3 linked regions of the Homo sapiens genome follow. The protein of the gene in region 2 interacts with the protein of the main gene of each other region in a pairwise test. Each region holds a gene or a part of one and is shown on either strand. Other genes may lie near its edges.

What was found.
Region 1: the proteins of GLE1 (region 2) and SPRED2 interact in binary tests that used the Homo sapiens proteins (3 or more experiments, as listed by UniProt).
Region 3: the proteins of GLE1 (region 2) and EXOC6 interact in binary tests that used the Homo sapiens proteins (3 or more experiments, as listed by UniProt).

The regions. Positions count from the first base shown.
Region 1 is NC_000002.12:65,335,060-65,338,714, reverse strand, and holds part of SPRED2 (sprouty-related, EVH1 domain-containing protein 2), read left to right. Parts: intron 1-3,655. UniProt on the Homo sapiens protein: Negatively regulates Ras signaling pathways and downstream activation of MAP kinases. Recruits and translocates NF1 to the cell membrane, thereby enabling NF1-dependent hydrolysis of active GTP-bound Ras to inactive GDP-bound Ras.
Region 2 is NC_000009.12:128,511,087-128,514,741, forward strand, and holds part of GLE1 (mRNA export factor GLE1), read left to right. Parts: intron 1-3,655. UniProt on the Homo sapiens protein: Required for the export of mRNAs containing poly(A) tails from the nucleus into the cytoplasm. May be involved in the terminal step of the mRNA transport through the nuclear pore complex (NPC).
Region 3 is NC_000010.11:92,949,508-92,953,162, forward strand, and holds part of EXOC6 (exocyst complex component 6), read left to right. Parts: intron 1-2,765; coding exon 2,766-2,875; intron 2,876-3,655. UniProt on the Homo sapiens protein: Component of the exocyst complex involved in the docking of exocytic vesicles with fusion sites on the plasma membrane.

The sequences.
Region 1 (3,655 bases), on a different chromosome or scaffold from region 2:
GGCCGGGCAGAGGCTGCAATCTCCGCACTTTGGGGGGCCAAGGCAGGCGGCTGGGAGGTGGAGGCCGTAGCGAGCCGAGATCACGCCACTGCACTCCAGCCTGGGCACCATTGAGCACTGAGTGAATGAGACTCCGTCTGCAATCCCGGCACCTCGGGAGGCCGAGGCTGGCGGATCACTCGCGGCTAGGAGCTGGAGACCAGTCCGGCCAACACAGCGAAACCCCGTCCCCACCAAAAAAACACAAAAACCAGTCAGGCGTGGCGGCGCGCGCCTGCAATCGCAGGCACTCGGCAGGCTGAGGCAGGAGAATCAGGCAGGGAGGCTGCAGCGAGCCGAGATGGCAGCAGTACAGTCCAGCTTTGGCCCGGCATGAGAGGGAGACCGTGGAAAGGAGAGGGAGAGGGAGACGGGAGAGGGAGAGGGAGACGGGAGAGGGAGAGGGAGACGGGAGAGGGAGAGGGAGACGGGAGAGGGAGACGGGAGAGGGAGAGGGAGACGGGAGAGGGAGAGGGAGACGGGAGAGGGAGAGGGAGACGGGAGACGGGAGAGGGAGACGGGAGAGGGAGAGGGACTCTTTCACTTTCAATAGATCTCTTACTCATCCCTGATTTTGTAACATCATGCACTGGTCACCTGAAAAATAGTGCTCCACTGAGTTAAGCAGATCTTCCAAATGTTGATACATTTTATTCTATAATATCAAAAAACTACATTTCTTAGTATTGCCACTAACTCATTAATATAAAAAAACTACATTTCTTAATATCGCCACTGACTCATTAATATCAAAAAAACTACATTTTTTAATATTGCCACTGACTCATTAGAAAAGTCTTTAAGTACCAGGAAGCTGTCTAGAATTCTAATTTATACTTCAAATATAGATAAGGATGTAAATTGCAGCATTGCCTTCAAGGTGACCAATTCTTACTGACATAAATGTCCGTTAGTATGGAGAATGGTTGAATAAATCTAATACATCCATACAGATGAATTAAACAATTATTTTACCTTCCTGTATCTCTATGACATATTTTTAAGGAAAATAAAAAGCAAGTTAAAAACAACTTATAGGTGTGGCTACATTTAAACACAGTTGCCCTTACACAGAAACTTACCTGTGTATATGTAAAGAAGCCACAAAATGGAAACTGGGATTGTGCCCGCTCTACTGACAGTGGGGAACTCGACAGAGAGGGATGTTGACGGTGGAGGGGAGAGATGAGTAGGAATGGAGTCCTCATGTCTTCAGCTAATACTTAAATCTCCCACAACATGTATTTCTTGTGTAGTTTTTTTTTTCAAGTCTCGAACAAGAACATAATCACTTTTTTTCTCCGTATGCATCTTATTTAAACGGGTATTTTTTAAAGCCTTTCTCAAGTTTTAAGTTAGTGTCTAATTGTGTGCGTGCCAAAACTTCACCAGAGAGTTTATATCTGTTGGGAAGATTAAAGCATCTAAAACCTTTTCATTTTTGTCTTTAAACTTAGATACATATGATACTATTTTGCTTTAGAGGACATAAAGAGATGGTATCTGATTTCCCCCCTCACTTAATTTAGGTGGCTGAACTTATTTTACTCAAACTTTATTTTTTTTTTGAGACAGAGTCTTGCTCTTTCGCCCAGGCTGGACTGCAGTGGCACGATCTCGGCCCACTGCAAGCTCCGCCTCCCGGGTTCACGCTATTCTCCTGCCTCAGCCTCCCTAGTAGCTGGGACTACAGGTGCCCGCCACCATGCCCGGCTAATTTTTTGTATTTTTAGTAGAGATGAGGTTTCACCGTGTTAGCCACGATGGTCTCGATCTCCTGACCTCATGATCCGCCCGCCTCGGCCTCCCAAAGGGCTGGTATTACAGGCGTGAGCCACCGCGCCCGGCCATTTTACTTAAACTTTTCTAAGAAAATGTACCTTTGGAATAATTTCAAAGTTGGAAAATATCAACCAAAGACTAATTTTTTCACCCCCAAAATATGGAGAAACTAGGAGTCTTTGTTTTTAGAATACAAAAAGTTTATTTTGAGACTTTGAATTGAGACTATTAAATTCTAAAATAGATAACATTTGTTAAATTCTTGATTATTTGGATTTCCCCAATGTGGAATGGGGCTGGGCTGACATTTAATCATTGTGCTATTCTTAGGGGGAAATGGCTATAATAAGCAATTTAATCATAAATAGAATTATGGGAGGGAACTGTTGTCCGATCTCAATACAATGTAATAAAGTTAACTGCTTGGGACTACTATTTGATATACCAATTTGAATATTATTCTCATTTTTTTATTAAGTTAGGGAACATTCATTAGACAACCCTTAATTTATTTCTCGTTTGTTTTTTCCTTTTGTTGAGACAGAGTCTCACTCTGTCACCTGGGCTGGAGTGTAGTGGTGCACCTTCTCAGCTCACTGCAGCCTCAGCCTCCCAGGCTCAAGCGTTCCTCCCACCTCAATCTCCTGAGTAGCTGGGACTACAGATGTGTGCCACCACACCCAGCTAATTTTTGTATTTTAGTTAGAGACAGGGTCCTGCCATGTTGCCCAGGCTGGTCTCAAACTCCTGGGCTCAAGTGATCCTCTTGCCTCAGCCCCCAAAAGTGCTGGGATTACAGGCATGAGCCACTGTACTGGCCTCCTTCTTTTTGCTTTGATCTATTCTTAGAATTTATACTTATTTAAAGATATTCTCTAATTTATCTGTATACTAATTTAGGCAGGTCTTTACTCTTGTCCTTCATTTAGTCTAAATTAATAAGATCACATTGCGGTAAATGCAGATCTTTGCCAGAACAAGATTGGGCTATTAAAACTTAGCAAAATCATTATGGTGTTTGTAATGAAGCCATAGGAATAAATATTGTAAGTAGTCTGAGTTTTTTAATGAATAAAGAATGAAGTTTACGTTCAAATTATTGCAATGTTTCTTTTCTATAATATTAAATAAATTCTAGTATCTCTATCAACTGTGCTAGACGGGGTTATTTTATAATCTTGACTTTTTGTAGTCTAGTTAGGGGAACAAGACTAATACACATGAAACTGTTAAAGAATAGTTTGAAATCAGGTACTAAATTGTGAAGATGACAAGAAGGAGAATTGGAGTACATATAAAACTTGACAGGGAAGATATACTGGACAATGAATGTGAATTAGGTTTCTCATTTATTCAGTGTTTTCAGAGCATGTTCTTGTTCTCATTGATAACATTGGTGTTCTTTCCATCTTAGAGATAAAAAGATCAATCTACTCATTACAACTCAGTAAAAGCCAGTTCTGAGATTAAATTGCTAGAAACTTGAATATTGTTCTATTAATCCAAACATAAAGTTAATAGAGACCCAGATCAGGGTGGCAGCAACTGAAATGGGGTTGATATAAAAGCTGTTGAAGGAAAAATGAAATGGACCTGGTGATTAATAATACAGGAGATAGGCAGAGGAGGCAAAGATGACCACAGAGATGATGAGCCAGAGAAAAAGAGTGGAGAGGGATTGGTATTGCCAGAAGTTGGGAGAGGAGAAATTTTAGAGTAAAGTTAATTTTTCAACTTTTGGAATTTGGAGCCTCGGGGGAGGGAAGCTAGATGACCATCAATATAAAAACCCCAACATAAAAGCAGTAATCTGAAATACAGCCAAGACCCAAGA
Region 2 (3,655 bases):
CCATCTACTTGGGAGGCTGAGGCACTAGAATTGCTTGAACCCGGGAGACGGAGGTTGCAGTGAGCTGAGATCATGCCATTGTACTCTAGCCTGGGTAACGGAGCAAGACTCAGTCTCAAAATATATGTATATATAGAGACTGAGTAAATAATAACAACAAAATAAATAATATATATATTATAAATATACATAAATATATATATTTATGTTGATTTTGTTGTTGTTGTTGTTGCCAGAAAAGGTCTAGGTACTTTAAAATATATATTTTTAGCAACTGAACGTCTTAAGGAAAAAAAGGAACCTCCACCTAAATGTCATACCTTATATAAAAATTAACTTGGCCGGGTGCAGTGGCTCACGCCTGTAATCCCAGCACTTTGGGAGGCCAAGGCGGGTGGATCACTAGGTCAGGAGATCAAGACCATTCTGGCTAACACGGTCAAACCCCTTCTCTACTAAAAATAAAAAAAAAAATTAGGCGAGTTGGCGGGCACCTGTAGTCCCAGCTACTCAGGAGGCTGAGGCAGGAGAATGATGTGAACGCGGGAGGCAGAGCTTGCAGTGAGCTGAGATTGCGCCACTGCACACCAGCCTGGGCGACAGAGCAAGACTCCATCTCAAAAAAAAAAAAAAATTAACGTGATCATGGACTTAAACATAAAAAAAAAACTGTAAGCCTTTTAGAACTAAAACATAACCAGAATCTAGGGCTGGGTGAAGATTTATTTCTTTATTTATTTTTGAGACGAAGTCTCATTCTTGTCCCCCAGGCTGGAGTGCAATGGTGCAATCTCGGCTTAATGCAACCTCCGCCTCCCAGGTTCAAGTGATTCTCCTGCCTCAGCCTCCCGAGTAGCTGGGATTATAGGCGCCTGCCACCATGCCTGGCTAATTTTTGTACTTTTAGTAGACGGGGTTTCACCATGTTGGCCAGGCTGGTCTCGAACTCCTGTTCTCAGGTGATCTGCCCAACTTGGCCTCCCAAAGTTCTGGGATTACAGGCGTGAGCCACCAGGCCCGGCCTGGGTGAAGATTTATTTATTTAACATTCCTGAATTAGCAGAACTGTAGAGAAGGAGAATAGCTTAGAGATGAGGGATGGGGGAGGAAGTGGTGAGGCTATAAATATAGGTGTGACATGGGGTGGTTGGTGGTGATAGAACAGCTTTGTATCTTGAGTGTGGTGGTGTTTACATGAATCTACATGTGATAAAATTACATAGAACTATACATAAGCACAAATGAATGCCTTTAAAACTGGTGAAATCTGAATAAGCTCTGTGGATTGTACCAATATCAATTTACTGGTTTTGTTATTTTATTGTATTTATGAAAGACATTACTATTGGGGGAGACTGGGTGAAAAGTACATGCGACCTTCCTGTATGTATTTTTGCAACCTTCTGTGAACATTAATTATTTAAAAATTAAAATTTTTAAAAAGTATTTTTATGAGCAGCTTCTTGGCAACAGATTCTGATCTGATCCTGCCAATATTGTGGCGTGCCCTCAGGTGGGCCTCTTTTCCTCAGTGGACTTCAGTGTCTTTATCTGTAAATCTCATTCTGGACCAAATTGCTGAGGTCTTTTTTTTTTTTAATATGGAGTTTCGCTTTTGTCGCCCAGGCTGGAGTGCAATGGCGTGATCTCGACTCACTGCAACCCCAGGTTCAAGTGATTCTCCTGCCTCAGCCTCTTGAGTAGCTGGGATTACAGGCACGCGCCACCATGCCTGGCTAATTTTGTATTTTTCGTAGAGACGGGGTTTCACCATGTTGGTCAGGCTAGGTGACCTCAGGTGATCCACCCGCCTTGGCCTCCCAACATGCTGGGATTACAGGCATGAGCCACCGTGCCCAGCCCGAGGTTATTTTCACGTATAAAATTCCGTAATTTTTGGAGCCACTGCGCCTGGCCTAATAAATTATTAAATGGTTTTATGTAATGGATTGTCACATTATTTAGGAATTTTTGGTATTTACGTAAGAAAAACCCAGTTTGGCTTAAGGGACTGAGGGAAGTATTAATTAGTTCATGTAACTAGGAAGTCTAGGAGTGCATTTGGAATCACCTAGATCTAGGAACATCTACATTCTGCATCTTTCTGCTTGACATTATTTATTATTATTTTTCAAACATCTCCCCCACATAGGATTGATTATTTTTGACTCAATCTAGTGTCCCAAACATGGGGCTTTGCCTCTCCATTTCTCAGTTATTGGTTTCATTGTTGAGATAGATTAGGTGGCAAGATGGCTACTGGTAGCCCTGGACTCAGCATCTTCTTAGGTTAGCATTCCCAGATAGCTTCATCAGAAAAGTTCAAAGATATCCATGTCAGGTGTGTTAATGAAAATAAAAAAGCTGGGTGTGGAATCCCAGGACTTTGGGAGGCCAAGGCAGGTGGAACATTTGAGCTCAGGCATTCGAGACTAGCCTGCGCAACATGGGGAAACTCCATATTTACAAAAAAATTACCTGAACATGATGGCTCATGCCTACGGTCCCAGCTACTCAGAAGGCTGAGGTAGGAGGATCCTTGATCCTGGAAGGTCATGGCTGCAGTGAGCCTAGATAGCACGACTGTATGCCAGCACGGGTGATAGAGTAAGACCCTGTCTCAAAAAAAAAAAAAAGAAAAGAAAAAAGGCGGGGTGCGGTGGCTCACGCCTGTAATCCCAGCACTTTGGAAGGCCAAGGCGGGTGGATCACGAGGTCAAGAGATCAAGACCATCCTGGCTAACATGGTGAAACACCATCTCTACTAAAAATACAAAAAAAATTATCCTGGCGTGGTGGAGGGTTCCTGTAGTCCCAGCTACTTGGGAGGCTGAGGCAGGAGAATGGCATGAACCCGGGAGGCAGAGCTTGCAGTGAGCCGAGATTGCGCTACTGCACTCCAGCCTGGGCAACAGAGTGAGACTCCATCTCAAAAAAAAAAAAAAAGAAAAAGAAAAAGAAAAAAAATAGGCCAGGCATAGTGGCTCATGCCTGTAATTGTAGCACTTTGGGAGCCTGAGGTAGGAGGCTTGCCTGAGACTAGGAGTTTGGGACCAGCCTGGGCAACATGACAAAACCCTGTCTCTACAAAAAAATACAAAAATTAGCCAGGTGTGGTGGCGTGCGCCAGTGGTCCCAGCTACTTGTGAGACTGAGGCAGGAGGATCAATTGAAGCTGGAAGGTCCAGGCTGTAATGATCCGTGATCACGCCACTATACTCCAGCCTGGGAAACAGAGTGAGATCTTGTTTCAAAAAAAAAAAAAAAAAAAAACTTAGAAAAGTTCAAAGATGAACTCTGGCCTTCAGGTCATATTTTTCATTCCTCAAGTCCATACTGGGTGTAGGAGGATAGCAGACTTTTTTTTTTTTTTTTTTTGAGACGGAGTCTCTGTATCCCAGGCTAGAGTGCAGTCGTACGATCTCTGCGCACTGCAAGCTCCACCTCCCAGGTTCACGCCATTCTCCCGCCTCAGCCTCCCGAGTAGCTGGGACTACAGGCGCCCGCCACCATGCCTAGGCACGTGCCACCATGCCCGGCTAACTTGTGTATGTTTGGTAGAGACAGAGTATGTCTTGTGTATGTTTAGTAGAGACAGGGTTTAGTAGAGACAGGGTATGTCTTGTGTATGTTTAGTAGAGACAGGGTTTCACCA
Region 3 (3,655 bases), on a different chromosome or scaffold from region 2:
GTTACTGGTAATGAGTTTGTTCAGGCTAGTGTCTATATAAAGAGCACTAGACTAGGTCTAGATTCATGTGCTAGCTCTGCTTGTGGCTTTTTTTTTTTTTTTGAGACGGAGTTTTGCTCTTGTTGCCCAGGCTGGAGTGCAATGGTGCCATCTCGGCTTACTGCAACCTCTGCCTCCTGGGTTCAAGTGATTCTCCTGCCTCAGCCTCCCAAGTAGCTGGGATTACAGGCATGCGCCACCATGCCCAGCTAATTTTGTAATTTTTTTTAGTAGAGACAGGGTTTCACCGTGTAGGTCAGGCTGGTCTCGAACTCCTGACCTCAGATGATCTGCCTGCTTCAGCCACACAAAGTGCTGGGATTACAGGCGTGAGCCACTGTACCTGGCTGCTTGTGGCTTATTATAGGCAAATGACTGAGCCTGTGTGGGCATTTGTGCCTCATCTGTCAAATGAGGAGTTTGAACTCAGTAATCTCTAATATCCCTTCCAATCATAATAGGTTTATAATTAAAAGGAAATTTAACTTTGCTTGCAGAGCATTTCTAATATATGCAGTACCTCTTAAGTTCTTAGAAGTTGTATTCATTGGTCTATGTATTACTCATTATTAAAAAGAAGAACTGTTAATAGTTAAAGTCACATGGAAAATTAAAATATGACAACTGAAAAATAAATCTCATAAATTATTTAATAAAGTCTTTTGGTTGTGTGTGTATATTTTTTCCTAGTTTAAGTATAATTTTCAATTAAAACTATTAGAAAATATATAAAACTATCAAATAACTTGAGTTATTTTCAACATAAATTATGAATGGAGGAGTAATAGTAAACATACATGCAAAAATGTTTTTGTAGATAGCTATGTTAATTTTATTAGAATCATTTGGCCAAAATAAGAACATATTTATATTCTGCCTTTAATATCATTAAAATAATTTCAAATATTTTTCATATACCTACTATATACCAGAAACAGTGCTATGTGCTAGATTTTCAGTCTTTGGTGTTAAGGAGCTTATAGTCAAGTGAGGATAGATAAAATAAATAAGAAATTATAATTCACAGAAGTTTGCATTGCTTAAGATAGGGGATGCACCATGCAGAAAGGCTGCATAAAGGTCAAAGTAGATGAAGTACAAGAGATGAAGCTCAAGAGATGTAAATTGGAGAAGTAGAAAGGACCAGACCATAATGGCCCTACTAAACAGTGTTAAAGAGTTTATCCTTTTTCCTGAGGGTTATGGGAAGCCATGAAAGAATTTTAAGTGGTAAAAACATAACCAGATTTGTGCTTTAGGAAGACCTATATGTGGAGAATGGATTGGAAAAGAGTAAGACTGGTGGCAGGGAGACCACCTAGTAGATTTTTGCATTTATCTTGATGAGAGAAGAGGGTTATGTAACCTGAATGGGGGTTATGGTCATTGAAGCTGATTTGAGATGCTTAGGAGGTAGGAGCAACAGGAGTTGCTGATTATGTGCATATGAGGGGTAACGGAGATAAAGGGGTCAAGTAAGATAACCAAGTTTCCACCTTGGATGGTGGCAGCATTCACTGTGATAAGAAACAGAAAAGGAGCAAATTTAGAAGAAAAAGATGATAATTTCACTTTTGGATCTATTGAGTAACTCATCTCAATGGTACAGCCAAATGGAGCTGTCCAATGGGTAGATACATGAATTTGGACTTAAGAGAAAGATTTGATCTGGAGTTGTAGATTTGGAGATATTGGTACTTGTATGGTGATTGAAGTCATAAGACCATATGAGATCATCCAAGAAAAGTATATGTAGTAGAAAGAGAGGGTTTAGGACAGAACCCTAAAGCACAGCAATAATTAAGTAATGGCTAGAGGAAAAGAAATAGAGTAGGTAGAGAAAAAGGAGGAAAACCAGTGTGGGCAGGAATCCAAGGAAGGAGAGATCATTTATGAAGTAGGAGTGGGTCAACTGTGTCAGATTTTTCAAAAAAGTCAGGTAACATGAGAGCTGAAGAAACCACTGGATTGAACAACTGTGAGATCACTGGTGATCTTGGTGATGGTACTTTCACCGATATAACAAGGTTGCAATGAAGGTGAAGATAGAAGGGTATATTAGACTTACTGAAATAGAAAAGAGGGTTTTTTTAATAACAATCTTGGAAGGAGTTTACCTTTTAGAGACTGAGAATTTCAAATGCATAATGACTTACAAAGTAGTTTAGCCAGGAAGGACCCTGTAAGCCATTGGCTGCATACCAGTGTTTAATGGCATGGAGGTCAGAAACCTGCTATAAGGTATTCTAGGAGTTACGGAATAAACTCGATAACTTCTTGAATTGGCATCAAGCCTTCACTGAAGGTAAATGAAGGGAGTCTTAGAATTATTTAATGACTCTGAGCCAGAAAGCTGGCCTATAATTTTCATGGCCACCCTGACTCTTGTATGATAAATACACAAAGAAGCAGACAGCCTAGGCATTGCCTACAGACAGAATACTCATCACCAGAATACTCATCATCAGAATACACCAGAGGTATTGGTATGTGTTTTCTCTGCTTGTTGGAAGTCTGATAATATGATTTAAGAAACAAGGGTAAATTGCCACATTATTTTCTTCAGAAATATTTTGATAAAATATCAAAAATGTAGAAATATAACAGAGTTTTTGATGCAGGTATTTGCTATTCAAGTGTGAAATCAATTTAATTTTACATTTTTTAGTGATTAGCATGTCTTTTTCTAAAATTTCAAAAACAATATTAACTTTCTTTTTCTACAGCAGTCTTTCCCAAAGAAATTCCCCATGTCTCAGTCAGTGCCTCATATTTACATTCAAGTTAAAGAATTTATTTATGCCAGCCTTAAATTTTCAGAGTCACTACACCGGAGGTGAGTTTACTAATCACAAATGCATTTTTGTCATAACTTTTATGAAACATTAATACTTTATTTTTATGCCATAACTTTTTTTTCCTCAACTTTTATTTTAGATTCATGGGGTACATGTTTGTTATAGGGGCATATTGTGTAATGCTGAGATTTGGGGTATGCTTGAACGTGTCACCCAGGTAGCGAGCATAGTACCCAACAGGTAGTTTTTCAACCCCTGCCTCCCCTTCTTGTAGTCTCCAGTATCTGTTGTTTCCATTTTTACATCCATGTGTACCTAGTGTTTAGCTCCCACTTACAAGTGAAAACATGCAGTATTTGGTTTTCTGTTTCTGCATTAGTTTGCTTAGGATAATAGCCTCCAGCTGCATTCATGTTGCTGCAAAGGACATGATTTTGTTCTTTTTTATGGCTGTGTAGTATTCCATGGTGTTTATATACCACATTTTCTTTATCCAATCCAACATTGCTATCAATGGGGAGGTGCTACTGGAACTAGTAGTGGGTAGAGGCCAGGGGTGCTGCCATAGACACCTAGGTTGATTCTGTGTCTTTACTATTGTGAATAGTGCTGTAATGAACATATGGGTACATGTGTCTTTTTGGTAAAATGATTTATTTTCCTTTGAGTATATCCCCAATAATGGGACTGCTGGGTTGAATGGTAGTTCTTTGTGTTTGTTTTTGTTTTTGCTTTTGTTTTTATTTTGTTTTGAGACAGGAACTCACTCTGTTGCCCAGGCTGGAATGAAGTGGCACAATTATGGCTCACTGCAGCCT